Regions from separate parts of the Homo sapiens genome. Here regions 2 and 3 are each linked to region 1. Evidence: fine-mapped expression QTL. A gene starts in region 1. Each other region holds a variant in brackets. All regions are shown on one strand. Distances are between the middles of the regions. Region 1 holds the start of EHHADH (enoyl-CoA hydratase and 3-hydroxyacyl CoA dehydrogenase). Region 2 overlaps EHHADH (enoyl-CoA hydratase and 3-hydroxyacyl CoA dehydrogenase). Region 3 has its middle 34 kb from the start of MAP3K13.

What was found. PIP is the estimated chance that this variant, and not a neighbour inherited with it, causes the effect.
Region 2: its variant is the best candidate, but not a certain one, in a credible set for the expression of EHHADH in whole blood (TOPMed, PIP 0.78).
Region 3: its variant is the best candidate, but not a certain one, in a credible set for the expression of EHHADH in fibroblasts (GTEx, PIP 0.88).

Annotation. Positions count from the first base shown.
Region 1 is chr3:185,249,880-185,260,893 of GRCh38, forward strand. It overlaps EHHADH (enoyl-CoA hydratase and 3-hydroxyacyl CoA dehydrogenase), which reads right to left and starts at 4,170. Exons shown (of 7, transcript NM_001966.4): 1 at 4,070-4,170. The coding sequence starts at 4,143. MIR5588 (microRNA 5588) reads right to left here and starts at 3,393; the gene lies at 3,331-3,393.
Region 2 is chr3:185,201,672-185,212,685 of GRCh38, forward strand. EHHADH (enoyl-CoA hydratase and 3-hydroxyacyl CoA dehydrogenase) reads right to left here. Exons shown (of 7, transcript NM_001966.4): 6 at 2,745-3,086. Among named protein-coding and RNA genes, the nearest start is that of EHHADH-AS1, 44 kb to the left of the region's middle. RefSeq lists an enhancer at 6,679-6,728. The variant A/G (reference allele first, on the strand shown) is at 6,157.
Region 3 is chr3:185,323,616-185,334,629 of GRCh38, forward strand. It overlaps a transcript of MAP3K13 not described here. Among named protein-coding and RNA genes, the nearest start is that of MAP3K13, 34 kb to the right of the region's middle. RefSeq lists an enhancer at 9,011-9,070. The variant T/C (reference allele first, on the strand shown) is at 5,572.

The DNA.
Region 1 (11,014 bases):
TGGTATATGCAACTTTGGGGAAGAGTTCTTAAAGATTTGGGTATGCTTTTCCCTTTTTCTTTCCTCCCTATTCCTGGCACCAGTGATGGTTAGATCAGGAGCAGCCACCTTGGATCAGGAGGTAGAAGCTATGTATTGAGGATGGTAGAGCAAGAGATAGACAGAGAAAATAATTGAGGCCCCTGTTGATTGTGGAGCAGCTGTATCATTCCAGGGCACTGCTGTGAGAGAAATTAGCTTTTTATTGTCTAATTCACTATTATCTTCACTATTCTGTCAGTGACAGCCAAGCGTAATCTTAACTAAGATAAGATATAAAGGCAAGATAGTGGAAAGATAGGGCATGTAGCAGATTTTGCCAAGTTTTAATATATGAGGAAGTCATCTGCAGAAGAGATAGCTAAAACCAAGACTGAATGAGTCTACCAAAGGAAAAGAGAGCTGAGGGCAGATCCTCTGGATATATCTTCATTTAAGAAGTGGGACAAGCTCAGCAGAGTGATTCAGCAAGTGAGCTCAAAGTCACAAAGACCAAGAGAGAAAATTTGTGAAGAAGGAGGGGATTAATAAGTACCAAGCAATAAGAGAATCTAGGGCAAGTGGTGAGGAACTGCTTAAAAGGAAAAACCACAGAACCAGATTCCAATCAGTTTTGCCTTGGAATTCCAAGTATTCTGAGTAAAATCTCTGTTCTTTAGTACACAGGGTTAAAAATAAATTTTAAAACAAAACAAACAACAACAAACTTCTGTAAAGGCCATATTGTTAAGACCAACAACTATTAGTTAAAACCCCAAGAAATAAAAAGGATACTTGCCCTTATTTATAATGATTCCCTTACACCTAATTACTTTTCACCTCTTAACCTAGATGAAATCAGACAAAACCTCTTGGCTTCAGCTGGTTAATTAGAAGCCAAATCTGACCATGAAAAGCAAATTCAGAACCATTATATAACATCAAAAAGTCCAAAAGGCACACATTTCCTTCTGAATAAACAATGCTTACAAAACTAGCCAAAATTAGCTCAATCAGTGCCACTGAGGAGAAGAAACCAGCTTTTCCCATTTCAACCTATCTTCCTTTTTTATGTTCATAATTTTGCAAATATCAAAAACAGGAAAAAAATGAAAATAGCTATAACAGATACGCACTTTACTAGATTCAAGCTGACAGAGAGAGTCATAGCAATGTAAAGGCCGCAGAAGTTATGAAATTATTTTCTCCTGTTAATACTGTCAGGCATGAAGAAATAGAGTCTGGAGTAGAGACAGCATTTCATGACTACTGACCAAAACTCTTCAGCTTCTTTGACTATAGAAGGTCTTTCCTTTTTTTTTTAGACAGTTTTTTTTTTTAAACCAAAAGTCATCAAATCAAGTTTGTGGCTTGTGACCAGGATTTTTTCAAAGAAAAAGAAGAGATGAGAAAATAGACTATATCAAACAATATACCAAGTAAGGATAGGTTTTGTTTTAGGAAACTGCTTTCGGTTACGTGTTTGTATGTAAGTGTGTCTTGAATTGCTACGTAAAAACGTGAGCTTTCTTACTCTGTGGATTACAGTAAAGCAATCGTGTGAAAGCCATTGTTCTGGGAGACAGGCCTATTAATCAGGCATGTCCTATACTTATAAAGAGGGCTGGTGTTTATCTGAATGGAAGCAAACATGGCTGGCTAAACTAGCAATGAAGGATTTAAACTATTTGTTTTGGGGAAAAAATTTATATGTGTGTGTGTGTGTGTGTGTGTGTGTGTGTATTACACTCAAGTAAGAATCTCTCAATCAGCTAGGAGGAGACGACTTCCCATATAAAATTAGAAATAGGAAGGGGAAAAGGAAGAAAGGGAGGAAAGAAAAAGTGTAAGAAAAAAATTGAGGAATCTGTTAAACTTGAGGAACTCCTAGGATGTCCATTTCTACCTAAAAAAGTTCAGAAGACAGACAAAAAAGGGCAGAGAAGTACTTATTCCCAAGTGGAGAATATCTTCTTGATGAAACTGAAGTGGGTCCTGAGTAGCAGGGCCTGTTTTTGGGGCTTGAACAGGTCTTCTGACTAATAGGAATAACTAACATCTATTAAATGCCACTTCATAATTTCCAGCTGATTTAAACTTCACAACTTTATGAGGTAGGCCCTAACATTTCTCCTGCAAAGAGGATGGGGGTGGCACAGGTGGTTGCATGGGTGGGCAAGGAGAGCAGGTTAAATTCCAGAAATATTAAAAGCAATTGTCAGAGGCTGGGCACGTGGCTCATGCCTGTAATCCCAGCACTTTGGGAGGCCGAGGCAGGTGGATCACGAGGTCAGGAGATTGAGACCATCCTGGCCAACATGGTGAAACCCCGTCTCTACTAAAATACAAAAAATTAGCTGGGCGTGGTGGCACGCACCTGTAGTCCCAGCTACTCGGGAGGCTGAGGCAGGGGAATCACTTGAACCCGGGAGGCAGAGGTTGCAGTGAGCTGAGATCACGCCACTGCACTCCAGCCTGGCGACAGAGCAAGACTCCGTCTCAAAACAAGCAAATGAGCTTAAAAAAAAAAGAAAAAAAAAAAACAGTTGTCAGAAAATATTCCTAGTCATGGGTATTAGAGTATGGAACTTTTCCCCCTAAGGTCCTAATATCTAGCAATTCTAATCAGTATATAGACCAGTCCAAAATTGACATGTAATCATATTACTTACATTTTTCTTTGTCAAAACCAATATAACAGATATTTTGCTTTTTATTCTGGGAATGGCAAGTTAGTAGACATGTCATCCTTATGTGATTTTAGTCCTGCATTTTTTGACATTATTAAATGCAATAATTCATAATGAATTAATATTAATACTAATGATAAATCAAATCCAATGACAGTAGGATTTTTAAATTCTATTAAAATTAGCAGGTCTTCTCATTTCAGTCTCTTTGCTTCAGCAGCATGTTATAAGAATTTTGACCAAAGACCTTTCTCTCTATGCTTTATATATTCTTGATAAATTATAATTTCCACTAATCTTATTCCCTGTGGATAGGTAATTCTTTTTCAAGGCTGACATATAATTATTTTTTTAAGAGATGTAGAAGGACCAAACCAAATAATCATTACTTTTCAAAAAGGCAACATTGATCTCACTTTTTAATGTTTAAAGTGCACCACACAAGGCAAATACTCCCCAGTGAGAAAAAGAAGATAAGGTGCAATTTTTCAGAAAATGCTATTGCATAGGCTTAGTCTGATGTGAGTCTTCCTTGGAAGCACCAAAGTCCTGAGGTTTAAACAAATCAGGAGAAATAATTTTGCGTTTCCGGGCCAGGGCAAAATTCTGCTTTAATCACTGAGCTGGCATTAGTGGGACTTTTAACATTAAAAAAAAAAAAAAAAAAAGTCCCACTAATGCCAGTGATTGCCCTATTCCTAAAGCCTTTAGCCAAACATTGTAAGGACAGCCTGGACTCAAAGAAGGGGAGTGAGGCTGGATCAAAGTCCAACATCAAACTAAGTTAAGACCTTTGGATTAGAAAGTCGGCCTGCACACTGGGACCTGTTGTGGGGTGGGGGGAGGGGGGAGGGATAGCATTAGGAGATATACCTAATATTAAATGACGAGTTAATGGGTGCAGCACACCAACATGGCACATGTATACATATGTAACTAACCTGCACGTTGTGCACATGTACCCTAAAACTTAAAGTATAATTAAAAAAAAAAAAGAAAAATAAAAAGTCGGCCTGCAAAGCCAAAGTTGCAAGTAAGCAGGAGGGCTCCGCATGAAGGACAGGTCGAGGCCAACTCCCTAAGTGTTGATCTGTCTCAGCCTCAGCCTCAGTTTCCTTATCAGTAAAACGGGGACGAGAGTTCCCTGCGAAGATTAACCAAGCTAATCTAGGTTAAAAAAAAAAAAAAAGAAAAGAAAAAGAAAGAAAGAAAAGAAAAAAAAAGTTCCTGGCATGTACCAGTTGCTCAACTCTTGAGTGTCCTTCTCGGTTTAAACCGACGGGGGAGAGTCAAAGCCTCCGGAGCCAGAGGGCGGCTAAGGCCCGCACGGTCCCCGGGCTGGAGGCGACCGAGCCCGTTACCTGATCGCGTTGACCGGCGGGTTTCGGAGGCGGATTAGCGCCAAGGCGTTGTGCAGCCGCGTATACTCGGCCATGTTTCCTCTATCACCGAGGGCACCTCTGCCTCTCGCCGTCAGGCAAACCACTTTTCCGGGCGCGCCCGGCCTCCTCCAGAGGAGGGACGCCGGCTGGGCCAATGCGAGCCGGGGCGCCGCCTCCCGCCGCGCCTCTTCCCACCCAGCCCTCCTCTCCCGAGACCCCACCCGGCGCTCTACAGACGCTTGTCGCTTTCCCTTTATTAACTCCCATGCTGCTCCCACCAGAAGGTACAGCAAGGAGAATGATGGAAAACAGCTGTAATTGCCGGCAAGTCGAAGTTTGTAACCCCTTGGCCCATAGGGGCTGGCTACTGAGGACAAGTTCTGAGTTCGCTGAGACGGGCAAGCTGTCCTCATCGCGGTATTCATCTTCATGATCTTTCTGAACAGGGACAGATACCTGGGGCCCTCCCTGACAGTTATGTGATATTGATACACATCTGGAACACATAAAATACACATTGTTCATTTCACCTAAATGAGTAGGGTACTAATGAAACAGCCTTTGCAAAAATTCTAACAGTGAGAAAATTATGGCAGTCAAAGAGATCTGATTTAACCAACCCCATCTTGCCTTTAGCTGCCCTTAATTATTCCTGAGCTTAGGCCAAGTTAACTTTGGGAGACATTTGGTTTATAGTTTAAATGATAATAGCCCTTCCCCAAAACTCAACTGCCTTTGTAAAGCTAACCGAGAGACCACCAGGCTAGGAGGACAGAGGAGTGTGAATTCTCTCTGCTAAGGTGTAAACATAGACCATTGCCAGCCATTATTCCGGAAGCCACCAGATAGACAACTTCCCCATTTACTCCTGCAGGTAACATTACTATTGTAGAACCTAAGTTTGGCCTTTTGAGATATTTTTTCACGTTTGCCTGACACTGATGGCTCCACCTGGACCAGTCAACAGCTCCTGTGGCCCCACCCACAAGCAACTCAGTACAAGAGGATAGCTTCAACCCCTATGATTTCATCTCCAACCCAACCAGTCAGCATTTTCCATACCCTAGCCCCTGCCCACCAAACCACCTTTGAAAAACCCCTAACCTACTAGCCTTCGATGAGATTGATTTGAGTAATAACTCCATGTCCCATGTGGCGTGGCCAGCCTCACATCAATTAAACTCTTTCCTTACTGCAATGCTGTGGTCTTCCTGAATTGATTTTGTTTGTGCAGCAGGCAGGAAGAACCCATCCAGTGATTACTCTAACATCAACCAAATACTTATATAACATTGTTACTAGAGGAGGGTCTGGACTGCAAGTTGTCCAGGTTCTTGGCGTTTTGAACAAAGAATTGGACGAAACACACAAAGCAAGGGAAAAACAAAGCAACAGAAGCGAATATTTATTGAAAACGAAAAGACACTCCACACGGTGGGAGTGGGCCCAAGAAAGAGGCCCAAGGGACCTTGTTACAGAATTTTCTGGGGTTTCAATACCCTCTAGAGGTTTCCCATTGGTTACTGGGTGTACGCCCTATGTAAATGAAGAGGACGAAGTGAAGTTACGAAGTCATTTACTCAGTGTACACCCTATGTAAATGAAGAGAATATTTCCTGTCATAGCTGAAGTGTTTCCATTTGATTTAGTTCTAGAAAGTCTTTAGGTTCCCTGCCTTCAGGCCCTATACTCCTGCCTCAACATCTTTTTTTTTTTTTAATTTTTATTTTTTGAGACGGAGTCTGGCTCTGTCGACCAGGCTGGAATGCAGTGGCGCGATCTCAGCTCACTGCAAGTCCGCCTCCCGGGTTCACACCATTCTCCTGCCTCAGCCTCCCGAGTAGCTGGGACTACAAGCGCCCGCCACCACGCCTGGCTAATTCTTTGTATTTTTGGTAGAGATGGCGTTTCACCGTGTTAGCCAGGATGGTCTTGATCTCCTGACCCTGTGATCCACCCGCCTCGGCCTCCCAAAGTGCTGGGATTACAGGCGTGAGCCACCGCACCCAGCCCACAACATCATTTTTATTTGTCTTACAATCACATGCAACTAGCGAAACTGTTATGGGTGGACGGTGTCCAGGTTCTTGGCGTTTTGACCAAAGAATTGAAAATGCAAAACAAAGCAAGGAAAGAATGAAGTAGCAAAAGCAGAGATTTATTGAAAATGAAAGCACACTCCACAGGGTGGGAGCAGGCCTGAGCAAGTGGCTCAAGGGACCAGTTACAGAATTTTCTGGGATTTCAATACCCTCTAGAGGTTTGCATTGGTTACCTGGTGTATGCCCTATGTAAATGAAGGATGATGGTTGGGTGCAGTGGCTCACACCTGTAATCCCCGCACTTTGGGAGGCCATTGTGGGCAGATCACAAGGTCAGGAGTTTGAGACCAGCCTGATCAACATGGTGAAACCCTGTCTCTAATAAAAATACAAAAATTAGCCCGGCGTGGTGGCACATGCCTGTAATCCCAGCTACTCAGGAGGCTGAGGCAGGAGAATCACTTGAACCTGGGAGGTGGAGGTTGCAGTGAGCTGAGCTTGCACCACTGCACTCCAGCCTGGCAACAGGCGAGTCTCCATCTCAAAAAAAAAAAAATAAATAAATAAAATGACAATTTAAATGTTTAAATGGCCCATCAGGTAGCCAAATGTACCTGAAGCTTTGATTGTAAACCAAACATTGGTTATAAACTATTTTAGCAATTTATAAGTCAGCAAACCAGTATATATTTAATCTGGATCATTTTATCTTTTCCATGATGAGTCACGGAATGCAGAAACTTTAATAACAAAAGCTTTAAGGACTCAGGAAGAACAAGGTGGCCATCTTGGTTTTCCATGAGTCCATGCTTAACACTGGACTTATGTCCTCTTGAATACCAGTTGTTTCTCCAATTTAGGTGCATAGCACTGATAACTAATGGGTTTTCATAGCTGATTTGACTTAGACCATGGAGTTCAAATGACTTTAAATAGTGATAGTTAAAAACACTATTGACAAGGAGATTTGGTTATTTCTGTGGTCTACAATAACACAATAATTATGATTGATAGCATATACTCAGACATATTAGAATTTTAGAAATTCCATACAATTCTGGAACATATATTAATATCATTCACTAATATATAACCTGAAGATGATTAAACATTATTTTTTATTTTCACAATGCTTCCCATGTAACTAAACATATCAAATAATCCTGTTTACCTCTCTTTTGGATGGTTCACGGGCCTGCTGTAGCATCTCAAAGTTTGAGGTCAGAAAAGACAATTTTGAAGCTGCAATTTGATTTTGGGAAGCTTGTTAAATGTTTATAAAAATTAACATTCTCATGCCTTCTCATTATATTTTACCATTCATTCAACCAGTTTGCACAAAGAGGGGCCAGAAGTCCAACTGGTAAGAAATTCTTACCCTTTTGCCGGCATGTCAGCTTTCTTGAGTTCTCTCTCCATGAGCAGCCCTAGTGACCCTGCTCAACTGTATGCAAACAAACACATTGCTATGAATTAAGAATATTCACAAACAATTTACAAATTTTGAAGAAATTAGGCAGAGAGAGAGAAATATGACTCAAGTTCTATTTACAAAAGTATACTCAATATACTTAAAGTATCAGGAAGCCTAATATCCAAAAAGTTAGTTTAAGGTTAAAAAGCTTAGTGTGCTCCACCAATTCCTGTGAGCTCAACAAAGGTAGCCTAGGAATTCCAGATAAATGGAACAAATGATGACTTGGTAGAAATGCATAGAAAATAAAATAACTATTCACAGAACCAAATAAAAGCCTTCCACTAGAAACTAAAACAACAAACAAAAAAATGGTTTTCTATTTATGCGACCACAAGCAAAGCCTGGAGGAGAATAAACAGCAAACAAATGAAAATTAGAAGCAAAAACAAACAGGAACCCCACCCTAAATTTTTCCTACTCAATCTACCCTGGAGGCTACAGTGTTACTCAGGGCCCCCAAACACCCATATAATGAATATTTTATTCCTGATACACCATTCAATATCCTTAAGTCCACCAATATCATCATACATCCTGTACAATCAAGAAATTCACTCTAGGCACATGACCAATAAGTACTCCAGTGCCAGCACTATCCATGCAAAACAGTAAACGGTGTGAAGCAATGCATGCATGTATGTGAAATTTAGCTCCATACTTAACCAGCTTCATGCTTAAGTATATTAAAAAATATACTTATATTTCTTATTTTACTTTAGGCAAGACTAAGAGCTCTAACTATGAAATGTTAATTAGTCAAATTTCTCCAATTTTCTATCAGGTTTTAAGGAATATTTTATTATCTAAACTTTTTTTTTTCACATTTCTCTCCCCTACTTACTGGTTCCTTACTACATTGTTTCATAAATAACCTTTTCTTTTTTTTTTTTAATTATACTTTAAGTTCTAGGGTACATGTGCACAACGTGCAGGTTTGTTACATAGGTATACATGTGCCATGTTGGTTTGCTGCATCCATCAACGCGTCATTTACATTAGGTATTTCTCCTAATGCTATCCCTCCCCCAGGCCACCACCCACCGACAGGCCCTGTTGTGTGACGTTCCCCTCCCTGTGCCCATGTGTTCTCGTTGATCAACTCCCACCTATGAGTGAGAACTTGTGATAGTTTGCTCAGAATGATGGTTTCCAGCTTCATCCATGTCCCTGCAAAGGACATGAACTCATCCTTTCTTATGGCTGCATAGTATTCCATGGTGTATATGTGCCACATTTTCTTAATCCAGTCTATCATTGATGGACATGTGGGTTGGTTCCAAGTCTTTGCTATTGTGAATAGTGCTGCAATAAACATACGTGTGCATGTGTCTTTTTTATTATTATTATACTTTAAGTTCTAGGGTACATGTGCACAACGTGCAGGTTTGATACATAGGTATACATGTGCCATGTTGGTTTGCTGCACCCATCAACTCATCATTTACATTAGGTATTTCTCCTAACGCTATCCCTCCCCCAGCCCCCTACCACCTGACAGGCCCTGGGGTGTGATGTTCCCCGCCCTGTGTCCAAGTGTTCTCATTGTTCAATTCCCACCTATGAGTGCGAACATGAGGTGTTTGGTTTTCTGTCCTTGTGAGAGTTTGCTGAGAATGATTGTTTCCAGCTTCATCCATGTCCCTGCAAAGGACATGAACTCATCCTTTTTTATGGCTGCATAGTATGCCATGGTGTATATGTGCCACATTTTCTTAATCCAGTCTATCATTGATGGACATTTGGGTTGGTTCCAAGTCTCTGCTATTGTGAATAGTCCTGCAATAAACATACGTGTGCGTGTATCTTTATAGTAGCAAAATTTATAATCATTTGGGTATATACAGTAATAGGATTGCTGGGTAAAATGGTATATCTAGTTCTAGATTCTTGAGGAATCACCACACTGTCTTCCACAATGGTTGACCTAATTTACACTCCCACCAAAAGTGTAAAAGCATTCCTATTTCTCCATATCCTCTCCAGCATCTGTTGTTTCCTGACTTTTTAATGATCACCATTCTAACTGGTGTGAGATGGTATCTCATCGTGGTTTTGATTTGCATTTCTCTGATGACCAGTAATGATGAGCATTTTTTCATATGTCTGTTGGCTGCATAAATGTCTTCTTTTGAGAAGTGTCTGTTCCTATCCTTTGCCCACTTTTTGATGGGGTTGTTTTTTTCTTGTAAATTTGTTTATTTGTAGATTCTGGATATTAGCCCTTTGTCAGATGGGTAGATTGAAAAGATTTTCTCCCATTCTGTAGGTTGCCTGTTCACTCTGATGATAGTTTCTTTTGCTGTGCAGAAGCTCTTTAGTTTAATTAGATCCCATTTGTCTATTTTGGCTTTTGTTGCCATTGCTTTTGGTGTTTTAGTCATGAAGTCTTTGCCCATGCCTATGTCCTTAATGGTATTGCCTCAGTTTTCTTCTAGGGTTTTTATGGTGTTAGGTCTTACGTTTAAGTCTTTAATCCATCTTGAGTTAATTTTTGTATACCGTGTAAGGAAGGGATCCAGTTTCAGCTTTCTACATATGGCTAGCCAGTTTTCCCAGCATAATTTACTTACTAGGAGATCCTTTCCCCGTTGCTTGTTTTTGTCAGGTTTGTCAAAGATCAGATGGTTGCAGATGTGTGGTGTTATTTCTGAGGCCTCTGTTCTGTTCCATTGGTCTATATATCTGTTTTGGTACCAGTACCATGCTGTTTTGGTTACTGTAGCCTTGTAGTATAGTTTGAAGTCAGGTAGCGTGATGCCTCCAGCTTTGTTCTTTTTGCTTAGGATTGTCTTTTAGATAACTTCTGAATTAGACAAAATTATTCTTTTTCTCATAAACAACACAACTTTTTCAGGCACATTTTGTATACAGAATTATGTGTTAACTAGAATTCTTATCCTTAGTAACCTAAAACTTTAATGAAATCCTAAAAAGCAAGAAATCCTGAACTATCAGATATGGGCATTTTTAGATAAGAACAATTATACAATTATACATATTTCCCCATATCACAAACCTTTCTTAATTGGAAATGACCCAGATATTCAATGAACAACCCAAATAATTTTAAGATTTTAATTTACATAAAAAGTTTCCCTAAAACATTTATTCCATTCACTGCACTCAGTTCATTCCCCTTTTTGTTTTTTGTTTTTTTTTTTGAGACAGCGTCTCACTCTGTTGCCCAGGCTGGAGTGCAGTTGTATGGCCTTGGCTGACTGCTACCTCCACCTCCCAGGTTTGAGCAATTCTCCTGCCTCAGCCTCCTGAGTAGCTGGCATTACACGCGCCTAGCCATCGCGCCTGGCTAATTTTTGTATCTTTAGTAGAGACAAGGTTTCACTATGGCTGGTCTCAAACACCTGACCTCAAGTGATCTGCCCACCTAGGCCTCCTAAATTGCCG
Region 2 (11,014 bases), 48 kb before region 1:
TTCTATCTACGTGTCTTTTATATATTTAGTACGCCCTTTCCAATATTTTTCAAAACAATGTGGATATCATTTTAAAAAAATACTTCAAACTTTTACACATTATATGCCAGAAACAAACCTGAAGGCTTTTAAAGAAAGGTTCACAACAAAATCGGGAAATCCTCTCAAACAGTGGTTGACAAACACAATACTGATACACTTACCAGCTTGCTATTATTTGCATTAATTATTCTTGACTTGAAGGAATTGAAGGAGAAAGAGGTTAAGTGCACAACAACTAGAAATAAATATTGGTATTGCTGAAATATTTAATAGTACAAAAAGAGGAACAATCATAGTTCTTTGTCACTCTACTTATCCATCTTCTTAAAAAATCACAAGTGAGGCTGGGCACAAAGGCTCACGCCTGTAACTCCAGCACTTTGGGAGGCCAAGGTGGGCGGATCACCTGAGGTCAGAGGTTCAAGACCAGCCTGGACAACATAGTGAAACCCTGTCTCTACTAAAAATACAAAAATCAGCCAGGCTTGGTGGCGCAGCACCTGTAATCCCAGCTACTTGGGAGGCTGAAGCACGAGAATTGCTGGAACCTGGGAGGCGGAGGTTGTGGTGAGCTGAGATTGCGCCACTGCACTCCAGCCTGGGTGACAGAGCGAAACTCCATATCAAAAAAAAAAAAAAAAAAATCCCAAGCGAATCAAGGGTAGACCTCAACAGAGTCAGAGCTGAAAGGAGCACAATGTATTTATATTAGAGACAGATTCTTTGATACCAAAGTTGAATTGAGAGAACAAACAGACTGAGAAAATGTGGAGTGAGATCTTTGCCTCCAAGTTGGGTTGGTGCTACAGCAGGGGTCGCCAACCTCTGGCTGTGGACCGGTACCAGTCCGTGACCTGTTAGCACAGCAGGAGGTAAGCAACAGGCTAGGGAGCATTTCAGCCTTGACCTCCGCCTCCTGTCGGATCAGTGGTGGTATTAGACTCTCACAGGAGCGCGAACCCTATTGTGAACTGCGCATGTGAGGGATCTAGGTTGCATGCTCCTTCTGAGAATTTAATGCCTGATGATCTGAGGTAGAACAGTTTCATCCCAAAACCATCATCCCCCAATCCGTGAAAAATTGTATTCCGTGAAACTGGTCCCTGGTGCCAAAAGGTTGGAGACCACTGTGCTAGACAGCTGGGCAAGGGTTAAGAAAGTTGATGCTTTTACACAAAAAGGCAAATATCATATGTTCTCACTCATATGTGGGAGCTTAAAATGTAGATCTCATAATGATACAGGGTAGATTGGTGGTTGCCAAAGGCCAGGAAGGGGAGGGGGGGATGGGAGATGAAGGGAAAAAAAAGGATATAAATATATTTATTACTACTGAACTGTATACTTACAAATCGTAAAGATGGTTAAAAAAAAAGAAAAAAGAAAGAAAAATCAGAATAAGGGCTATAGACTAAATAATAGTTCTTTATATTAATTGCCCTGTTTTTTAAAATAAATTATACTGTGGTCATGTATGAGAATATTAATTTTAGGAAATACACATAAGTCTGTAACTTTTTCTTAGGGTTCAGAAAAGAGAGAGGGAAATAAAACAAATATAGTAAAACGTTAACATTTGGAGGATCTGGATAAAAAGTATATGAGAATTTTTTGTACTATTATAACTTTCCTGCATGTCTTTAATTATGATTAAAAAAACTTAAATATAAGAAAAAAAGAAAAGAAAGAAAGTTGATGCTTTTAGTAAACTATGGACCCTCTCCCCAGAAGATTGTACCTAAGCTGGTGCAAAGAATGCTTCACTTACCATCTCAAGGGATTTAAAATCCACCAAAGACCGTTCTTGAGCCGAGACTAAGAGCAAGTGAAGCTTAGGAAAGTGGCCCAGAGAAGCCAATCAGGGAGCTAGCATCTGAGGAAGGAAGATATTTTGTTTGGGAAAATTCCAGAGGGAAAAAAAGTAAGGAAGCCATGGTTTCAGGGTTAAGATGGATTTGAGGATAGTGGTTTTGAACAGGTGAAGTGAATGGATCGGGGGACGGAAAGACAGAGACTTGATTGCAAATACCCAGCTATGAGAGTGACAGGCCACACCTTGAAATGTGGTACAAATCATCATCATCAGGAAATCCAGGAATGAGAGATTCATACAGGGAAGAGGTAGCATAGAATAAAAAATGCTAGGCCAGGAATGGTGGCTCACACCTGTAATCTCAGAAATTTGGGACGCTAAGGCAGGTGGATCACTTGAGGCCAGGAGTTCGAGACCAGCCTGACCAACATGGCGAAGCCCTGTCTCTACTAAAAATACAAAAATTATCTGGGCATGGTGGCAGTAGTCACAGCTACTCAGGAGGCTGAGGAAAGAGAATCACTTGAACCTGGGAGGTGGAGGTTGCAGTGAACCGAGATTGAGCCACTCCACTCCTGCCTGGGTGACAGAACAAGACTCTGTCTCAAAAAAAAAAAAAAAAAAAAAAAAAAGAATAAAACATTCCCAGTCTGGAGTCAGACCTAGGGTCAGACTTTCACCCTACTCGTGTTTAGCTCACCATTGAGAAGGCTGGCGTCTCTAGGCCTCTCATGTTAAAGAAGAGAGCTCATGGGGTGGTGTGAGAATTAGCTTAGCTAACACAAGTAATGTGTCTTACGTGAAACCTAGCATCCGGTAGCCCTAAGCAAATGGTAGCACATTACATGAGCAGATTTGGAGGATTCCATTCATTACCCCATGGTCTTACCAACAACACCAACTGAGGAGACAGGCCGCGCTGATGCTGTTTTCCACGATGCTCCGGAGGGAGTTGACCACTTATTTGCTTTCCTTTCAGCGAAGAAAGCATATTGCAGGGCTCTAGCCTGCCCTGATTGCAAAAGATATAGAAACAGCTCCTCCTCCTTCTTGATGCCCACTTCATAGGGATACTGCACAGCAGCCTGGACTGCACGGACACAAGCCTCCTGTGCAAGACACCCAGGGTGCTGCCTCCGCATCTTCAAGAGGGCCTCACTAAAAATGCTGTCCATGTTGGGCAAGCTCTGAATTGGCTTGTTGCAGAGTCTACGGGATTCTAGAGGTTGATCTGAAAGGAATAAGAAGGATCAGAGCTTTGGAAATGTTACTTGTACAAAGGGAATGTGAATATATAGTAATAACAATAACCTGTTCAAATTCAAAGCACAAACTAAAAGCTATTCATTAAGACATTTAATGTACACTAAACATATGTACACTAACATCTCTGATATCTTTGCAACACAGTCCTACAAGATAGAATTTAGTAGACTCAAAGCAATTTTAGGTTACCTAGTTTAGGCATAAAAGTTGTATTTTCTTTTTAATCCAAGACCAAGACAATTTTATAATAGATTAATGATTAATTAATTAAATTAATCAATAGATTAATATTTAATCTGTAATTAATATTAATATATTAAATATTAATGAGTCTAAGGAAAACGGTTCTGAGTTAATATTTTATTTATTAATTTTTAAAAATTATTTCAGCTTTTATTTTAGATTGAGGGCATACATGTGCAGGTTTGTTACATGGGTATATCACACGATGCTGAGGCTTGGGATATGAATAATCCTGCCACCCCAGTAGTGAGCATAGTACCCAGAAGTTGGTTTTTCAACCTTTGCCATCCTCCCTCCCTTCCCCTGTAGTAGAGACTCTAGTGTCTATTATTGAGTGAATATTTTAGATTCAAAATAACCTTAACTCCGTTCCTAATAGTAACAAAAACTTTAAAATACCTAGAAAAGGAGACAGCGTGGTATTGATGCAAGGATAGGTATATATATCAATGGAAGAGAATCGAGAGTTCACAAATAAACTCTTACAATTATAGCCAATGATTTTCAACATAGGTGTCCAAACAATTCAATGGAAGAAAGGAGAGTCTCTTTTTTTCACATTCAGAATTTTTATTTTAAAACAAAGAATCGGAGCAACATTAACAACAGAAAATCCATATGGAAATATTCACAATCTGCTCAGTGAGAAATGGGAAAACAACTTTCCTGCCTTACTGCCAACCTACTGTTTGAGGAGCCAGAAGTTGACGTGAGGTTGGAAGGTCACCTTTTCCAGCTAAATCCCACTGAATAGGTGTGTGCATTTTTATTCAAAGTCTCCGCAACCAGAGGGAACAGAACTGAGAACAAAAATACTGTTATTGGCAAGGGTTTGGCTAAAGGGTCTGGCTAAAGGGTCTGAGATGTGCAAGCACCAAGAAGGGATAGGGAGATTGAGCAACACATGAAAAGAGGGGCTGTAGGAACAAGCACCGAGAAAGTAAGTCAACTATAACCTACTTCCACCCAGAGCAAAGTGACTGTGCACATAAATCCACACTCTCAAGTGTGGGCTACACTGCACGCTGACTCATACGATCTCAAACGTGGTTTATTGGAAAGATTCTAGTCCCCTAAGGGCACTCAGCGAAGGACCACAGTGACATGGTAACAGATGCACACAAGCATACTGTGACCCTAAAGCAACAACACACTTTAGATAATAATCGTTCAGAAAAAAATCCTCAAAAGGAGAATCTTTCAACAAATCGTAGTGGGATAATTGGATATCCACATGCCAAAAACAATAAAAAAAAAAAAAAATTTAGGTCCTTACCTAGCACCATATATAAAAATCAACTGAAAACAGATCACAAATCTAAATTGAAGAACTAATACTATAAAAATTCCTAGAAGAAAATATAAAAAAATTTTCAGGACCTTGGGGTTAGGCAAAGTATTCTTAGATACAACACCAAAAGCATGACATACAAAAGAAACAAGAAATCAGACTTCATAAAAATTAAAGACTTTTGTTCTTCAAAGGATATCAATAAGAAAATGAAATGACAGCCAGGTGCAGTGGCTCACGCCTGTAATCCTAGCACTTTGGGAGGCCGAGGCGGGTGGATTGTCTGAGCTCAGGAGTTCGAGACCAGCCTGGGCAACATGGTGAAACCCCATCTCTACTAAAATACAAAAAATTAGCTGGACATGGTGGTGTGCACCTGTAATCCCAGCTACTCGGGAAGCTGAGGCAGGAAAATTGCTAGAACCTGAGAGGTGGAGGTTGCAGTGAGCCGAGATCATGCCATTGCACTCCAGCCAGGGTGACAGAGCGAGACTCTGTCTCCAAAAAAAACAGAAAAAAAAAAATGAAATGACAAGCCATAAACTAGAAGAAAATACTTGTGTGGTAGTCAGAATAACACCCCCCCCACCAAATGTTCATGTCTTAATTCCTAGAATCTGTGAATGTATAACCTCACATGGTAAAGAGATGTATAGGTGAGAGTAAGATTAAAGACCTTGGCTGGGCACAGTAGCCCACGCCTGTAATTCCAGTACTCTGGGAGGCCGAGGTGGGCAGATTGCTTTGAGCTCAGGAGGTTGAGACCAACCTGGGCAACGTGGTGAAACTCTGTCTCTACCAAAAATACAAAAAATTAGCCGGGCATGGTGGCGCACCCCTGTGGTCCCAGCTACTCTGGAGGCTGAAGTGGGAGAATCGTTTGAGCCTGAGAGGTTGCAGTGAGTGAGCCAAGGTCGTGCCACTGCACTGCAGCCTGGGTGACAGAGTGAGACCCCATTTCAAAAAAAAAAAAAAATTAGACATTGAGATGGGGATATTACCCTGTGTTATCTGATTGAGTGCAATCTAATCATATGAGTCCTTAAAAGCAGAGAATCTTTCCTGACTGTGGTGAGGGGGATTCAACAAGGAAGAAGGGTTAGAGAAATGCAACATGCAAAGGACTCGACCTGTTGGCACTGATGTAGCTTTGAATATGAGGAAAGGAGACCAAGAACTAAAGAATGCAGTGTTCTCTAGAAGCTGGGATTGACCTTTAAGGTTTACAAGGTCGCAAGTTTGCAAGCAAGAACATGGGGACTCTGATCCCACAATGCAAAGTACTGAGTTCTGCCAACAACCCAAATAAGCAGGAAACAGTTTCTCCCCTAGAGCCTCCAGAAAAGAGTGCACCAGCTGACACCTGGATTTTAGCCCAGGGAGACCTCTACAATACTTCTAGTCTACACAACTGTAAGAAAATAATTTCGGATGATTTAAACTGCTAAGCTTGTGGTAATTTTTTAGCACAGCAATAGAAAATATAATTGGCACATCAAAT[A/G]TCAAATAAAGAACTTGTTTCCAGAATATGTAACAAACTCTTATGACTCAATAATTAGGTAAACAATGTAATTTCTTAAACGGGCAAAAACTTGAGCAGTTATTTCATCAAGGAGCATATGTGAATGGCTAATATGCACACAAAAAGATGCTCGACATCATTAGTCATTAAGGAAATGCAAATTAAAACCGCAACAAATGTGGTAGACAGACTCTAAGTAATGGGCTGTCATTTCTAGATTAGGTTACAAAAAGACTCTGGCTTCAGTCTTGCTCATACTTTCTTGCCCTCTCAAATTGGTCACTCTGATGGAAGCCAGCTGCCCTGTTGTGAGCCACCCTATGGTGAAGCCCACGTGGCAAAGAACTGAGGGAGGCTTTCAGCCCACAGTCAGTGAGGAACTGAGGCCCTCAGTACAACAGCCCATACGGAACTGAATCCTACCAACAACCGCTTGAGTGAGTTTGAAAGCAGATTCTCCCCCTGACCCCTAATCAACCTGAGATGACTACAGCCACAGACAACACCTTGATTGTAGCTTTGTTTGAAATCTGAAAGCCAGAGGACCTAGGACACTTGGATTCTGGACCCACAGAAATTGTGGAATAAATGTTTGATTTTAAGCCACTAAGTTTTGGGGTCATTTGTTATGCAGTTAGACTTACTAGAATGACTATAATAAAAAGCCATCACTACTGAATGTTGGTGATGATGTAGAGAAACCAGAAGCCTCATACGTTGCTTCTGAGAGTGTAAAACAGCACATTGCTTTGGAAAACAGTTTAGTTGTTTCTTAAAAAGATAAACATAAACTGATTGTTCAACCCAGCAATTTCACTCCCAGGAATCTACACAAGAGAAATGAAAGCATATGCCATAAAGAAAACTTGTCTACAAATATTCATGGCAGCATTATTTATAATAGCAAAATCTGGAAACAATCCAAACATCCATCAGCTGTTGAATGACTAAAGAAATTTGATAGAGCCATGCAATAGAATATTATTCAGCAATAAAAAGGATCAAACTGTTGATACATGCTACAATACAGATACAGATGAGCCTCAGAAACATTATGCTAACTAAAAGAAGCCAGATGCAAAACATTACATATTGTATGATGCCATTTAGATCCAAGGTCCAAAAAATGCAAATCTATAGAGACAGAAAGATCAGTGGTTGCCTAGGGCTGGGGATGTGAGTAGGAGTTAGTGTTAATGGGCATGAAGAAACTTTTTGTGGGAGTGGACAAGTCTTAAAATTGATTTATGGGGATGGCTGCACAATCTATAAGGCAAATCACGCCTCATTAAAACTGTTAAAGTGTATCTAGAAATGAATTTATCAAGAAAGGTACAAGACCTTTCAGAAGATAACTATACCATTTTATTGAAGAACATAAAATAAGACCTTAATAAAAACAGAAAAGCACCATGCTTCTGGATATAAATATTTAATAGCATAAAAATATATTTTCCATATGTATTATATATGAAATTTTAATAAGAATCCTTATGGTACTATTTTAAAAAATAACTTTACAGAATGATTCCAAAGTTTTCATAAAATAATAAATTCATAACAACTTACAGTTACCAAAACTTCAGCTATACCAGAAGTTGTTTTCTATAATGTACTGGCATCTCTTAAAAAATAAAACCATTTTATCAAAAATGTACATCTTAGTTATTTAGACAGAAAGCCTACCAGGGCTTATACCAGAGCAGTTTCACCATAAAAAGACATATGAACATAAGCGCATCTGGCATTGAGCCCCTCTGGCATTGGTGTGTTAGGCGTGTCCAAGGGAACGTGAGTAAGGTTTGGATGTAATCATGTGCACATGGTAATATAGATATATTGTATAATCTCAGCCTCCTTTTTAAATCAAAGAGACAAGAATATTTTCTTAATGCTTGATTAGTAAGTAGTGTTGGAAAGAATGAGTTTCTGAATTAATGATTTCCCATATGATGTTAAAGAATAGGATTCAGGAATGGAGAGAAGACAGTGGTTATAGGCATGTGGTCCCTCTCACCCTACTACTTTGAAAAAACATGAACCGTATCCAATAGGCCCACCAATTACTTGCTCAATTACCCAAAGAGTTAGCCCAATCCTCAATTTAAGGGAAAGCAAACTCAGCAGAGAAGAATGGGGACTCCCCCAGGGTCTACAGATGATTTAATGTGCCGGTGACCTAAAAGGAAGACAAGAATGGACAATGGGGAGAGGAAGGAGAGAACAAGAGCATGGAGGCACAAGCGGAGGAGGAAGGCAGGCTGGGCTGCCGGTGCAATCTATGCCATGTAACAGGGCATAGACAGCGCTGGGATATCTTAGAGTTGGATCTCTGTCTTGTGATACTACCTCTGTTCCCAGCATTCCTGGGGGTGCTTCTCAACATCATAGCACACATCAGATTTATTTGAAGAGTTTACGAAGTTCAGATGCCCACATCATACCTCAAAATTAACTGCTGAATTTTTTAAGAGTAGCCATGCCCAGGCCTCACCATAGATTCAGTTAAGAATCTTTGCCGGGCACAGTGTAATCCCAGCACTTTGGGAGGCCGAGGCAGGTGGATCATGAGGTCAGCAGTTCAGGACCAGCCCAGCCAAGATAGTGAAACCCCGTCTCTACTAAAAATACAAAAATTAGCCAGGCGTGGTGGGTGCCTGTAGTCTCAGCTACTACTCGGGAGGCTGAGGAAGGAGAATCGCTTTGAATCTGGGCGGCAGAGGTTGCAGTGAGCCGAGATTGTGCCACTGCACTCCAGCCTGGGCGACAGAGTGAGACTCTGTCTCAAAAAAAAAAAAAAAAAGGGAATATTTAAAGGTGGGGCCTAGTAAGACTATTCTTGAAAAGTTCAGAAGCTGATTTTAAGGTATAGCCTCTGGGAGCTCCAAGAGCAGAGAGTGTTGTCCGCCACTGAATCAAGGACAGCTGCAGTTCCTGGCAATTTCATTTTAGGCCAGAGATTGAAAAGAAAAGATGGGAAAAAAAGAGAGGAGAGAACAAAACTGAAATGAAAAGAAAGCCTGCTTAATGGTGTGCAGTAATTAGTTCTGATCAGCATAATCCTATTATCCCGGGGACACTGAAAACCTCGCAGACTGCATATGGGCATTTTGGGAGCTATCCAAGGCACTTGTCTAGACCAGTCCTAGGGCCAAACTAAGCATACCCACTGGAAAATTTTGGATCCGGGCACAATCATAGATGGTTTTTCCCTGCTCAATTTCCTATCTCTTTCTTGCTACAGCTATAACTAAGGATGCTGTTATCTTACAACTTCAGTTATAAGATATTCAGAATTTCCCCTTTGGGTGTATAAGTACAGTTGTTTTCAAAGTGTATTTCTTGTATACTTGGTAGTTTTCAAGTCACTCAGCAGTACCTATACAATAAGAGAGGCAAGTGTCAGTATGTCAGCATCAGCATTGGCTGCCCAGGGAAATGGGGAGGAAAGGAAGTAATCAGTGATTCAAATATACTATTAATTGAATTCTTTCCTTGACCCATTCACATTTTTTCTTAGTTCTATGAGGTATTCTATGACATTTTTGATAAAAAAGATAAGTGAGTCACGTTTCTGAAGGAACAAAAGGAGGTGATTATTTTCCCTTCTTCTTCTGCTGTAATGGCAGGAAAAGATTTTCTCTGCCTAGGCTAAAGAGAGACTCAACATGCGGTTCACGGAAATCGTGAACACAGACATCAAGGAATCTGTCTCTCTCTCTCTCTCTAACCCTGATAAACAGAAAGCTGTGTCCATCATAAAAGCTTTGCAAAGGACAGACAGAATAACTGCACATTAACAGGCTTCAAGAAGGTGACCCACAGAACTTGTCTAGCAGGTAAAAAGGAAGCTCAATTTAGACATGTGCGTAGGCCTCCTATGTAAGGCAGGTCACTCTGCTCTTTTGAAACATGTTCATATAAATGTTCACAGCGGGTAAAAATAAATTACAAAGTGAAGAAGATAAAATGAAGAGAAAGACAAATAAAACCACTAAGGTTTTTTAAAAGCCACAACTCCAAAAGAACAAATAGACCAAGGTCTTTAGGCAGAATTAGAATTGTTAAAAGTGGCTAACACAGCCCAGCACAGCCACAGGAACAGGACCAGGGTTCATTACAGAAAGGAAAACGGAGCATTAGGTTCCAGAGTTGACACTCCCAGCTGGATAATTCCCTGTGCCCATTCCAGCTGGGGAAGGTAGAGAGAGAGAGAGCCTTTAGTCTCTTGGTCTTTGAATAACAGCACACACATTCAGCATCATGCCAGAAACATGCACATGAGAACAGGAGTTCTTAGTTCAGAAACAGGCAGGCTGCTAGCCACATGCATGTGCAAATATATAGCATTTTATAGGATGCTCCCCTCCCTAGTTTAGCCAATGCAATCTGGTTTGGCCAAGTAATTCTGCATTGCACTGCTAAATCCATTGCACTGCAGTAGTCTGGGAGGCTTCATAGAATACGAACATTAAAATGCATAAAGCTAATGAACTTCCACAGTCAACTCACCAGGATACAGTGTTAAGTTTGTAGAGAAATGTGCCGCTAAGTCCCAAATTGCGTTTTAGGTATGTTAACCTTCTACACTCCCTTCCCACTCGTAATTGGTTCCAAAAGTGCTGATTGGAACCTTGACCATTGGAAATTCCCTTTTCTCCCTCCTTTCCTATAAGAAGTAGAAACTAAATAAATGTTCTTCATCTTCTTCTTTCGTTGTTGTTGTTGTTTTAAAGCAAACATTTGAGCAGTGGGAGTGAGAATAGGCTGAATAATTGGAATATGGTTACAAATGGGAAAAGGGAATACAAAAATTCAACATGTATTTTTTTAAGAC
Region 3 (11,014 bases), 74 kb after region 1:
AGCCACCGTGCCTGGCCACAGTCACCTAATTTTTAAATTCCAGTATCCTATTAGATATCTGTACTATAATTTAATTTACCAGTTCCTTCCTGATTTCCATCTTTTTCTTTTGCCAACAATGCTGCAGTTAATATTCACGTACATGTGTATGTTTTTAGTTATTGCTGGGTGAAAGTGTATGTGTTCATAATTTGATTGCCAATTTGCTCTTCAGAGAGGTTCTATCAATTTATCCTCCATTATTTTCCCATAACCTCACCAACATTGTATCTTATGAAACTTTTTTAACTTTGCCAATTTGTTAGGTGAAAATATAGGTTAAGATGACGTCATTGTACTTTTAATTTTGATTTCTCTTATAATGAGTGAGGTTGAGTGTCTTTTTATTTTTATTTTTATTTATTCATTTTTTTGAGACGGAGTCTTGCTCTGTCGCCCAGGCTAGAGTGCAGTGGTGCGATCTCAGCTCACTGCCAGCTCTGCCTCCTGGGTTCACGCCATTCTCCTGCCTCAGCTTCCAGAGTAGCTGGGACTACAGGCACCCGCCACCACGCCCGGCTAATTTTTTTTTATTTTTTATTTTTAGTAGAGACGGGGTTTTACCATGTTAGCCAGGATGGTCTCTATCTCCTGACCTCGTGATCCGCCTGCCTCGGCCTCCCAAAGTGCTGGGATTACAGGCGTGAGCCACCGCGCCCAGCCGAGTGCCTTTTTATATATTTAAGAGCCATTTATATTTCTTCTCTGAACTGTTCATGTACTTTGCCCACTTTTCAATTAGGTTGTTTATTAAAGCACCTTTATTATTTTATTTTCTCGCTTTAAAATCTTTTGATTCCTCCCATTTTCTGATATTTTAATTTTAAATCCTAGTCCCTTTTTCTAGACTTTACATTCTATGTTTCAATTCCGATTTCCCAGTACTTTTCAACAACCACCCCTGCTATGACCAGCCTGGTTTCTTCCCTCTCCCAGGGGCACACCGTGCTTGCCCCTTCCGCCATGCTTTCTTTTCTAATGTTCCCCTACTTTTCTCCTCCACTTATATCTCCTATTTTGAGACAGAGATTCATGTCATTTCCTCCATTTGTGTAAACTTCCTTTTAACCTCAAGGAGACTTCTAGAAAAAAGAATTAACTTATAGTTTGTAAACTCTTTAAAAAAATGATAATCACTAAGAACCGGCACAATTAAAAAAAAAAAAACTGCTCAAACAAACTACATCTTCATTTCCATTAGAGTTTGACAAGATTGGGATGCTGTGGACATGTCTTTACTTACAAGGTATTTTGTTCTCCTGACATATTTGAGGAACTACAAAAATATAAGCTGTATGAGAATAGGTGGTTTTGTAGCTGATCAAACATGTGCACCCAAAGAATATTGATTTATGGATCAGTATCAAACTAAAGGTCTCTAATAACATGTTTCAGAACTCTATTCTCAATCTTGACTGTTCAATGTTTATTTACTAATAATTTGGGTGAAATCATGGTCATTAAGTAGACGTAGTTAGGCTGAAAAGGTTACTTACTATGACAGAGGACAGCCAGCATGATTCAAAATGATCTTAATAATTTGGAAAAGTGGGCTAAAACCAAAATGTGAAATGTAAAAAGGTTGTATGTAGGACCCTGTGTTTCATTTCTAAAATTAACTGAGAAAAGAATGAGGGGGTTCTCTCACAAGGACAGGTCATTGGATTTAGAGCCCACTTAGATAATCCAGGATGATCTCATTTTGAGATCCTTAGTCACATCAGCAAAGCCTCCTTTTCCAAATACAGTCACATTCATAGATTCCGGGGATTTGACATGGGTTCTTTCTGAGGGGCCACCATTCAGCCTACTACAAAGAGGAACTTGCAGCCGTCACGTGTGTCGCTTTGCATCCCTTGCTCTCTCCTCCTCATAGACTGCTACCTTGGCTCAGTGTCACCTCAAAACTGCCTATTTGGTTTTGGGAGGTAGAGGGGTGGTTAAAAGCTGAGAAGGTAAGAAGGACCAGGTATGATCAGACTGGCTGTGAAGGGGATTCTGGAACTTGAAGCAGAGGCTTTGGGCAGGACCAGCTTCCTGTCAGGTTCAAGTGTTCCCTTGTCAATCACATTCTGTCCTTTGGCTGCTGAAAACCTTCCCATGGCATCTCAGTGTATGAAATCCAAACCTCTCCCCACAGTTACAGGGTCCCTGACTACTTTTTTGGGCCTCACATTTGGTCCTTGATCTCTGCTTTGGCCACACTGGCCTTCGTCCTCTTGGTTCTTGAGCAAGCCAAGGTCATTCTTGCCTCTGAACCTTTACATTGGCTGTTCCTTTGGCTGAAACACTGTTCCTTTCTACTTGCTTCACGCTTGGTTCCTTCGCTTGAAACACTGTTTCTTCCCCTCACTCCTCAGTTCATGTTCCTCTCAGCTCAAACTTCCCTCCTTCTCAGTGAGTCCTGAATATTGAGTTTTCCCCAGTCACCCTGTTCTCTTATCATCACAGTACTTGGCACCCCATGAAATTTCCTGGTTTGTCTATTCTCCACCCTCCTGCTGGAATGTCCGTCCCGGGAGAATAGGAGTCTTGTCAGATGGATTCATTGCTAGCACAGTGCCTGGCAGGTAGCAAGTGTTTACTTTGCAACTCCAGGGGAAAGTGGGATTCTCAGACCCATGAAATCCAACTAGGATCAGCTCAAGCCCTTTCCACATATACTTAAAAGCCTCAAACCCCACCACGCCCCCAGGATTTTAGCAGAATCTGGAGTGGCTCCTGTTCTCCAGGGCACCTCTGCCCTGGAGCAGCTTATCTATTGATCCAGACACGAATCTTAGCCTGTTCCTCAGCTCCCACAAGAAAGCCCGTCCTTACAGTAGCAGCTGACATTTACCCAGCAGTTACTATGTTCCAGGCACAGGTCCAACTACTTTGTATGAGCTACATCACTTCATCCTACCTAAAAAGTAGGTGAAATATTGTGCCCGTTTTACAGATGAGTCAGCTGAGACCCAGAGAGGTTAAGCAAATTACCTAAAATCACTCAGCAAGTAAGGGATAGAACCAGGATTCACACTTGGGAAACTTGTGTGTGTTTGATCCCAACACAGGAAAGAAAAAAAAAAATGAGGGTACAGCTAGGCACTTGGTTTAATGTAGCTCATGGGCCAAAGACTTAGGAGGCCACTAAGTTAAGAGTATAATGCTTTAAAAATTTGAAATAATCTTGATTTGCATTTATAAAAGTACAGCACCCAGATTAATGAATTTGATAGTTCCACAACTTTTTTTCTGCATCAGTTTTCATTTGCGTATTCTGTTCAGTCTTGAGTATTATATTTTAAAGGAGCTTGAAATTAAAGTACCTGTATTATTTTTCTATTGCTCCCATAACAAATTATCAAAAACTTTGTGGTTTAAAAACAACACAAGTTTATCTTATAGTTCTGTAGGTCAAAAGACCAACATGGGTCTCACTAGGCTAAACCAGGGTGTCATCAGGGCGGACACTCTGGGGAAAAATCAGTTTCCTTGCCATTCCTAGCTTCTAGAGGCCACCTGCAGTCCTCTGAGGCCCCTTCCTCCATCTTCGAAGCCAGCGAGAGCTAGTCAAGTCCTCCTATCACATCTCCCTGACCACAGCTGGGAGGGAAAAGTTCACTGCTTTTCAAGGATTCATGTGACTAGGTTGGACTCCTCCGGATAATCTCCCCATTTCAAAGTCCTTAAACGTTAATCACATCTGCAAAGTCCCTTTTGCCATGGAAGGTAACATATTCACAGGTTCTCAGGATTAGGACATGGACATCTTTGAGGGGTGCATTATTTTGCCTATCACGGTGCTTGTTGCAGAAGATCCCCAGGATAGTGAAGGGGTCAAATTGGACTCAGAGAGTCAGACTGAAAAGAATTAAGATGATCTCCAAATTTATTGCCTGGGAGAGAATAAAATAATGTTCATAAAGTGATTAGTGCAGTAAGTATGTAATAAATGGTTGCTGCTTCAAAGGCTAATGGTAGAAATTACAAGGCTGGGCGCAGTGGCTCACACCTGTAATACCAGCACTTTGGGAGGCCAAGGCGGGCAAATCACCTGAGGTCAGGAGTTTGCGACCAGCCTGGTCAACATGGTGAAACCCCGTCTTTACTAAAAGTACAAAAATTAGCTGGACACGGTGGCGGGCGTCTGTAGTCTCAGGTATTCGGGAGGCTGAGGCAGGAGAATCCTTTGAACCTGGGAGGCAGAGGTTGCAGTGAGCCAAGATCGTGCCACTGCACTCCAGCCGGGACAACAGAGTGAGACTCTGTCAGAAAAAAGAAAGAAAAGAAAGGAAGGAAGGAAGCAGGAAGGAGGGAGGGAGGGAGGGAAGAAAGGAAGGAAAGAAGGGGGAAGGAGGGAGGGAAGGAAGGAAGGAAGGAATAAAATAAAGAAATATGGTAGCTCAGAAGGGAAAGAAGCTTAGGAATGTGGCAAGAGATGAAGCAGTATCATATTTTATCTTGCAAAGAATAGAATTTGGGATCCATGTTCTCACTTTACATCAGATCAGCCGGTGGTTTGAATGTCAGAAAATACTACGTTTACCAAGAACTTTCTTTCACTAGTAAAAAAGTCAGGGAGAATGGAGATGGGGGAGGACTATAGTGGAGAAACAACTTTCTGGCCCTTTTCTGCCATGATTGTACAATGTATAGCTTCTGAGGAGGAAGGGAAAGTTGTCTTTTTGTTTTTTGTTTTTTGAAATGGAGTTTCAAAAAGGAGCCTCAGCCTCCCGAGTAGCTGGGATTACAGGCACCCACCACCACACCCAGCTAATTTTTGTATTTTTAATAGAGACAGAGTTTCACCATGTTGGCCAGGCTTGTCTTGAACTCTTGACCTCAGGTGATCCGCCCGTCTCGGCCTCTCAAAGTGCTGGGATTACAGGCGAGAGCCACTGCAGGTGGCTGGGAAAGTTTTATGAGAGGAAAGCAAGATATTTGAAGCTCAGAGGACTATCCTTTTCTTTTTTCTTTTTTCCAGGAACATATGGGAAAGAAATCCCCTCGGAAACCAAAGCCCAGCCATCGGAGATTTTAAGATTTTTCAGGCTTTCCTTATAATCTTCCTTACATTTGTCTCTTTAAACACATTTAAGTCGACCTTTGAGAAGTTGCTGATAAGCAGTTATCAAACAAGAGTTAGAGTAACAAACCCTCCCACCTCGCTGTGTTGGTTGGTAGCTTCCAAGGCCACTGTAAATGTGTATCAGTGTGAACCTGATCCAGAAACAGCCAGGAAGGGAGCAAAGTTTAGTTTAGTCTGTGAGGAAACTGGCGGCTGCTGGTAGTTCCATGCTGTCTGTTCAGACTTCAGCTTGGTGTAAGTAGTTTTTTTTAAAAAAAACTATTATGACATTTTCATATAAAAAGGATTGTAAGAATAATTTCCATCAAAGATTAAATCAAGTTTCTACCTGGCTCTAAATCTTAGGGATTAGAACTACTGAAAAGAAAGTTTCAGCACTCAGCAGTAGTTTTATTTTTTTTTAATGGAAAAGAAAGCCGTGAGGTGTATCAGCAAGTGTGCTGCTAAAACAGGTCCCG[T/C]GTGCACGAAATGATTTCTAATGTCTTATGTTGAGTGCAAGTGTTTACAGTTAGAAAATAAAAGTGAGTATGTACCTAGTGCCGAGAGATTGTTTCTAAGCAGTGCTTAGATTTATCCTCATGTTCTTTCCAGTTGCTTTTCCTCTGGTTTAGATTCATAGTTACAGATTCATGTCAGCAAATATTTAGCAGTCTCTCAGATCATTAAATTGGAGGTTTTGATGTTCAAAGAAATTAAAAGAATGAGAATAAAGTAGAACTTAATATCCTGTAACAAGATGTTGGGATCCAAGATTTAAGAGCAGCAGAATGTATTTTCAAAGAGGAAGAACTTTGTAAAACAGAAGTGGCAAGCAGCCTGAGGTTTCACGCAACTTCGGAGAAATCTGTTTTCTTAAGATTTGACATCTGTATGGATTTTTCAGACTAAATTCCCAGTACTATGGTGCGTAAAATGAGTTTCATATATGAAATTAGAGTTGCCGTGTTTCAGCTCTTCTGTCTTGAGATTAGGATCCAGGAACTACACATTGTTACACAAACATATTGACTTTATTAATGCAGCCATGAGAATGTTAAGGTCGCATGTGGTGTTGGAAAGGTTGGTATTTTCTATTTCCCTTTTACCACAATGCATTTTTAAAAAACCTGGTACATGACAATTATATGACTTTTAACTATATAAAAGGTCGAATTAGCCAGTAGCCTTTTTTTTTTTTTTTTTTTTTGAGACGGAGTCTCGCTCTGCAGTGGCACAATCTTGGCTGACTGCAAGGTCCGCCTCCCGTGTTCAAGTGATTCTCCTGCTTCAGCCTCCCAAGTAGCTTGGATTATAGGCGCCCGCCACCATGCCTGGCTAATTTTTTTTTTTTTTTTTTTTTTTTTTTTTTTTTTTTAGTAGAGATGGGGTTTCACCATGTTAGCCAGGATGGTCTCGATCTCCTGACCTCGTGATCCACCCGCCTCGGCCTCCCAAAGTGCTGGGATTACAGGCGTGAGCCACCGCGCCCGGCCTAGCCAGTAGCCTTTCAAATCACTGGAGGAGTGCTCAGAAGAGAGATTATTTATATAGACGTTCACTGGGTTTCCCCTTCCTCTGTCTTCATCTCAGACCTCAGTCTGTTTCTCTATCCTGCTTCTTGTTTCTGCTGTACTGAGCGGGAGCTCAGATCATGGTGCTGGGCCCCAACTGAATCTCGGTGAGATGGAATCCAGGACGCGTTGTCCTAAGGCTCTAGGGCTACAATGAACTGAAAACCTTAACTCACCCTCTAGCTTTCTGAATCTCGTGATTCTAGCCTCTTGAGCTGATTAACTTCTCCAAGTCAATAGCTTCTGCTGGGCCAAGTTCCTCATTTACTTGTTGGTTGAGGAGAAGGAGTGGAGGGCTGGGGGGTGTCCTGGGAAAGAAGCCAGTGTGGCAGGTAACATTGTTACTAGGGAAGCAGCTATTTTTCTCATGGGACTTGAAATGTTTCAGTCTTTTAACAACCTGGAAGGCCATACAGGTGTGTACTAGCCGCATGGTAACAAGCCCCTTTGAAAACAATGTTTTTAACCTCCAGTAGGTGCCCATACCATCCAGACCACTGCTCGTGCCCTACAAACCAGCCCTCAGGATCTGGCTTTCAAGCATGTGTTTTACATCATTGCCTGCCATTGTTCTCACTCAGGTTGCTCTAGCTACAAAGGTGTTTTGCTTTCTCTTGAACACATCAGACCTGCTCTTGCCTTAGGGCAGCTGCTGCCTAGAAAGCTCTTCCCCCTCATTGTTTCTTCCCAGCCTTCATTCGGGTCTCTATTCAAATAGCTCCTCCTCAGAGAGGCCTTCCCAGACTACCCTAACTAAAATGGCACCCTACTCCACTTCCACCATAACACTTTTTTTCTTTTAACCTAATTTACCTTTTTTTTTTTTTTTTTTGAGACGGAGTTTCACTCTTGTTGCCCAGGCTGGAGTGCAATGGTGGGATCTCGGCTCACTGCAACCTCTGCCTCCCGGGTTCAAGCGATTCTCCTGCCTCAGCCTCCCCAGTAGCTGGGATTACAGACATGCGCCACCATGCCCAGCTAATTTTGTATTTTTAGTAAGGAGATGGGGTTTCTCCATGTTGGTCAGGCTGGTCTCGAACTCCCGACCTCAGGTGATCTGCCTGCCTTGGCCTCCCAAAGTGCTGGGATTACAGGCGTGAACCACTGCGCCTGGCCTTTTCTTTTCTTTTCTTTTTTTTTAAGTAGCCACCTGGCAGTATTTATTTTATAAATTAAAAAATGTGTGTACATATATGTATGCCTGTGTGTGTATGTGTGTGTGTGTTGTGTTATGTAGGATATATATTTGGTCTTTCCCTCTAGAATGTAAGAACTTTGTCTTGTTCAGGGCCATATTGTCAGTGCCTAGGATAGTGCCTGCTTGACATGTAGTAGACACTTGGTAAATCGTTGTATGACAACTGGTGTCATTAAAATTTATTTCCAACCATAGGAATTTTTTGAATAGATGATATATTCACATTTCCAAGACCAAAACATATCAACTTCCCACTCCAGCCAGTTCTCCATCCATTCAGCTCCCATTCAGGGTCCCCAAACCACGGCTATTATTTTTCCATGTATCTTTCCAGAGTTTCTTGATATATGTAGTAAGGAAATATAAAAGTATAAATAGATTCTTATTTCCCTCCTTTTTACACATAACATTATACGTAATGTTCTAAATGTTTTCAGTTGTAATATATGTTGAATCTCTTTCCATGTAAGTACATAGAGAGTGTCCTCATTTTTAAATAGCTGCCTACTAATCCATTGTACGGATGTACTGTAATTTATATAACCAGTCACCTGTTGATAGACATTTTGGTTGTTTCCAGTGTCTTCCTATTGTAAACAATGCTGAAGTTCATAGCCTTGTACATGTATCATTTTATACATGCATACAGTATATCCATATGACTAAATTCCCCAAAGTAGAATTACTGGATCAAAAGGTATCATAAATATTGCCTAACTGCCTTCTTTAGGGATTGTACCAATGTGTACTCCCCCCCCCCATTATAAGAGTACTGTTTCTCATATCCTTGCCAACAGAATCATCAGACTTTTGGATTTTTGCCAGTTTGATAGGTTAAATAATGGTTTCAGCATAGTGTTTGTTTTTTAGAATTTACAATAAAATTTGTGTTGAAGTTTTAAAAACTAATTTTCATTTTTAATTGTGGTTAAAAATCCTATAACATAGGTAACCATTTTTAAGTGTACAGTTCGGTAGTGTTAAGTATATTCACGTTCTTGTGCAACAGATTTCCAGGACACTTCTGTCTTGTGAAACTGAAATTCTATACTCATTAAATAACAACTCTCCACTTCCTCCTCCTGCTAACTCCTAGCAACTACCATTCTACTTTCTGTTTCAATGAATGACTAGTAGCTATCTCATGTAAGTGGAATCACACAGTAATTATCCTTTTGTGGCTGGCTTATTTCACTTAGCCTAATGTCCTCAAGGCTTATCCGTGATGTAGTATATGGCAGGATTTCCTTCATTTGTAAGGTGAACAATATCCCATTGTATGTATATGCCATGTCCTGTTTATCCATTCATTCATCAATAGATATTTGGGTTGCTTCTACCTCTTGGCTATTGCGAATAAGGCCTCTGTGAACATGGATGTGCAGATATCTCTTTGAGGTCCTGCTTTCAGTTCTTTTGGCTATATACCCAGCAATGGGATTGTTGGATCATATGGTAATTCTATTTTTAATTTTTTGAGGAACCACCATACGTTTTCCATAGCAGCTATACCATTTTATCATAGTTTTAATTTGTATTTCTTTCATTATGAGAGGGGTTGAGCATCTTTTCATATTTAAAATAAATGCCTTTTTCTTCTGTGAACTCTTCATATTCTTTGCCAGTAATGGAATTTTTTTCCTATTTTTAATTTGATAACATTTTTTGTTCTTGTGCCCTTGAGTTTTCCAAATTTATAAGCTAGTCTAGTAGTCGTACATACAGGTATGGAATAAGACTACCTGGGTTTGAATTCTAGATCTACTAATAGCTGTGCAATCTTGATTGGACAAGTTACTGAACCTTTCTGAGCCACATTTTCTTATTTGTTAAATTGGAATAACATTGGATTGTTGTAAAGATGAGATGATGTATATTAGATACTTAGTATAGGGCTAGTATGATAAGGCAAAAACAAAAAAGGAAAAAGAAATTAAAAGACCTAAAGTGCAGAAAAGAAATAAAACTGTCATTAACAGATGACATGATTGTATGCATAAAAAACCTTATACAATCTATAAAAAAAACTTGAACTAATTAATGAACTTAGTAAGGCCACAGGTTAGAGTCAACATAAAAATCATACTAGAAACAACAGCTAAAATAGGTGAAAATATCACCATTAAAAATATCTGGCTGGGCACAGTGGGCTCAAGCCTGTAATCCCAACATTTTGAGAGGCTGAGCCCGGAGGATCACTTGAGGCCAGGAGTTAAAGACCAGCCTGGGCAACATAGCAAGACTTCATATCCATTTAAAAAAATTAAAAATATGAAAAAAATAGAAAGAAAAAGAGGCTGGGTGTGGTGGCCCATGCCTATAAACCTAGCACTTTGGGAGGCTGAGGCAGATGGATTGCCTGAGCTCAGGAGTTCAAGACCATCCTAAGCAACATGACAAAACGCTGTGTCTACAAAAAATACAAAAATTAGCCCAGCATAGAGGCACGCACCTGTAGTCTCAGCTACTCAGGAGGGTGAGGTGAGAGGATCGCTTGAGCCCAGGAGGTGGAGGTTGTAGTGAGCTATGGTCATGCCACTGCACTCCAGTCTGGGTGACAGAGTGAGACCCTGTCTCAAAAAGAAAGAAAGAAAATAAGAAAAAATACCTAACACACAGGAATAAATCTTTCAAAAGAGCACAACACCTCTATACTCAAGACTGTAAAACATTGCTGAGAAAAACTTAACAACTCAGAAATAGAAAGTGCAATATATATATACCATGATCATGGATATAAATTGTTAAGGTGCCATTTCTCCCTAAATCAGTCTGTAGATCTAATGCATTCCCAATCAAAATTTCAGCAGGCAATATTGACGAAATTGACAAGCTATTTCTAAATTTTTTGTGAAAATACAAAAGATATACAATAGCTAAAACAATCTTGAAAAGTAACAAAAAGGTAAATGACTTATAATACGTGACTTGAACACTTAACTCTGAAACAATAATCAAGACAGTGTGATATTGCCTTGAGGACAGGCAGATTTGTCGGTGGAACAGAATAGGGAAATCAGAAATAGATTCACACATATAAGGTCAATTGATTTTTGATCAGGTGGTGAGTCAGTTCAATGAAAAAAGAGTAGTTTTCTTTAACATGTTGCTGAAACAATGGATTTTCTTTTTTTTTTTTTCTTTTTTTCTTTG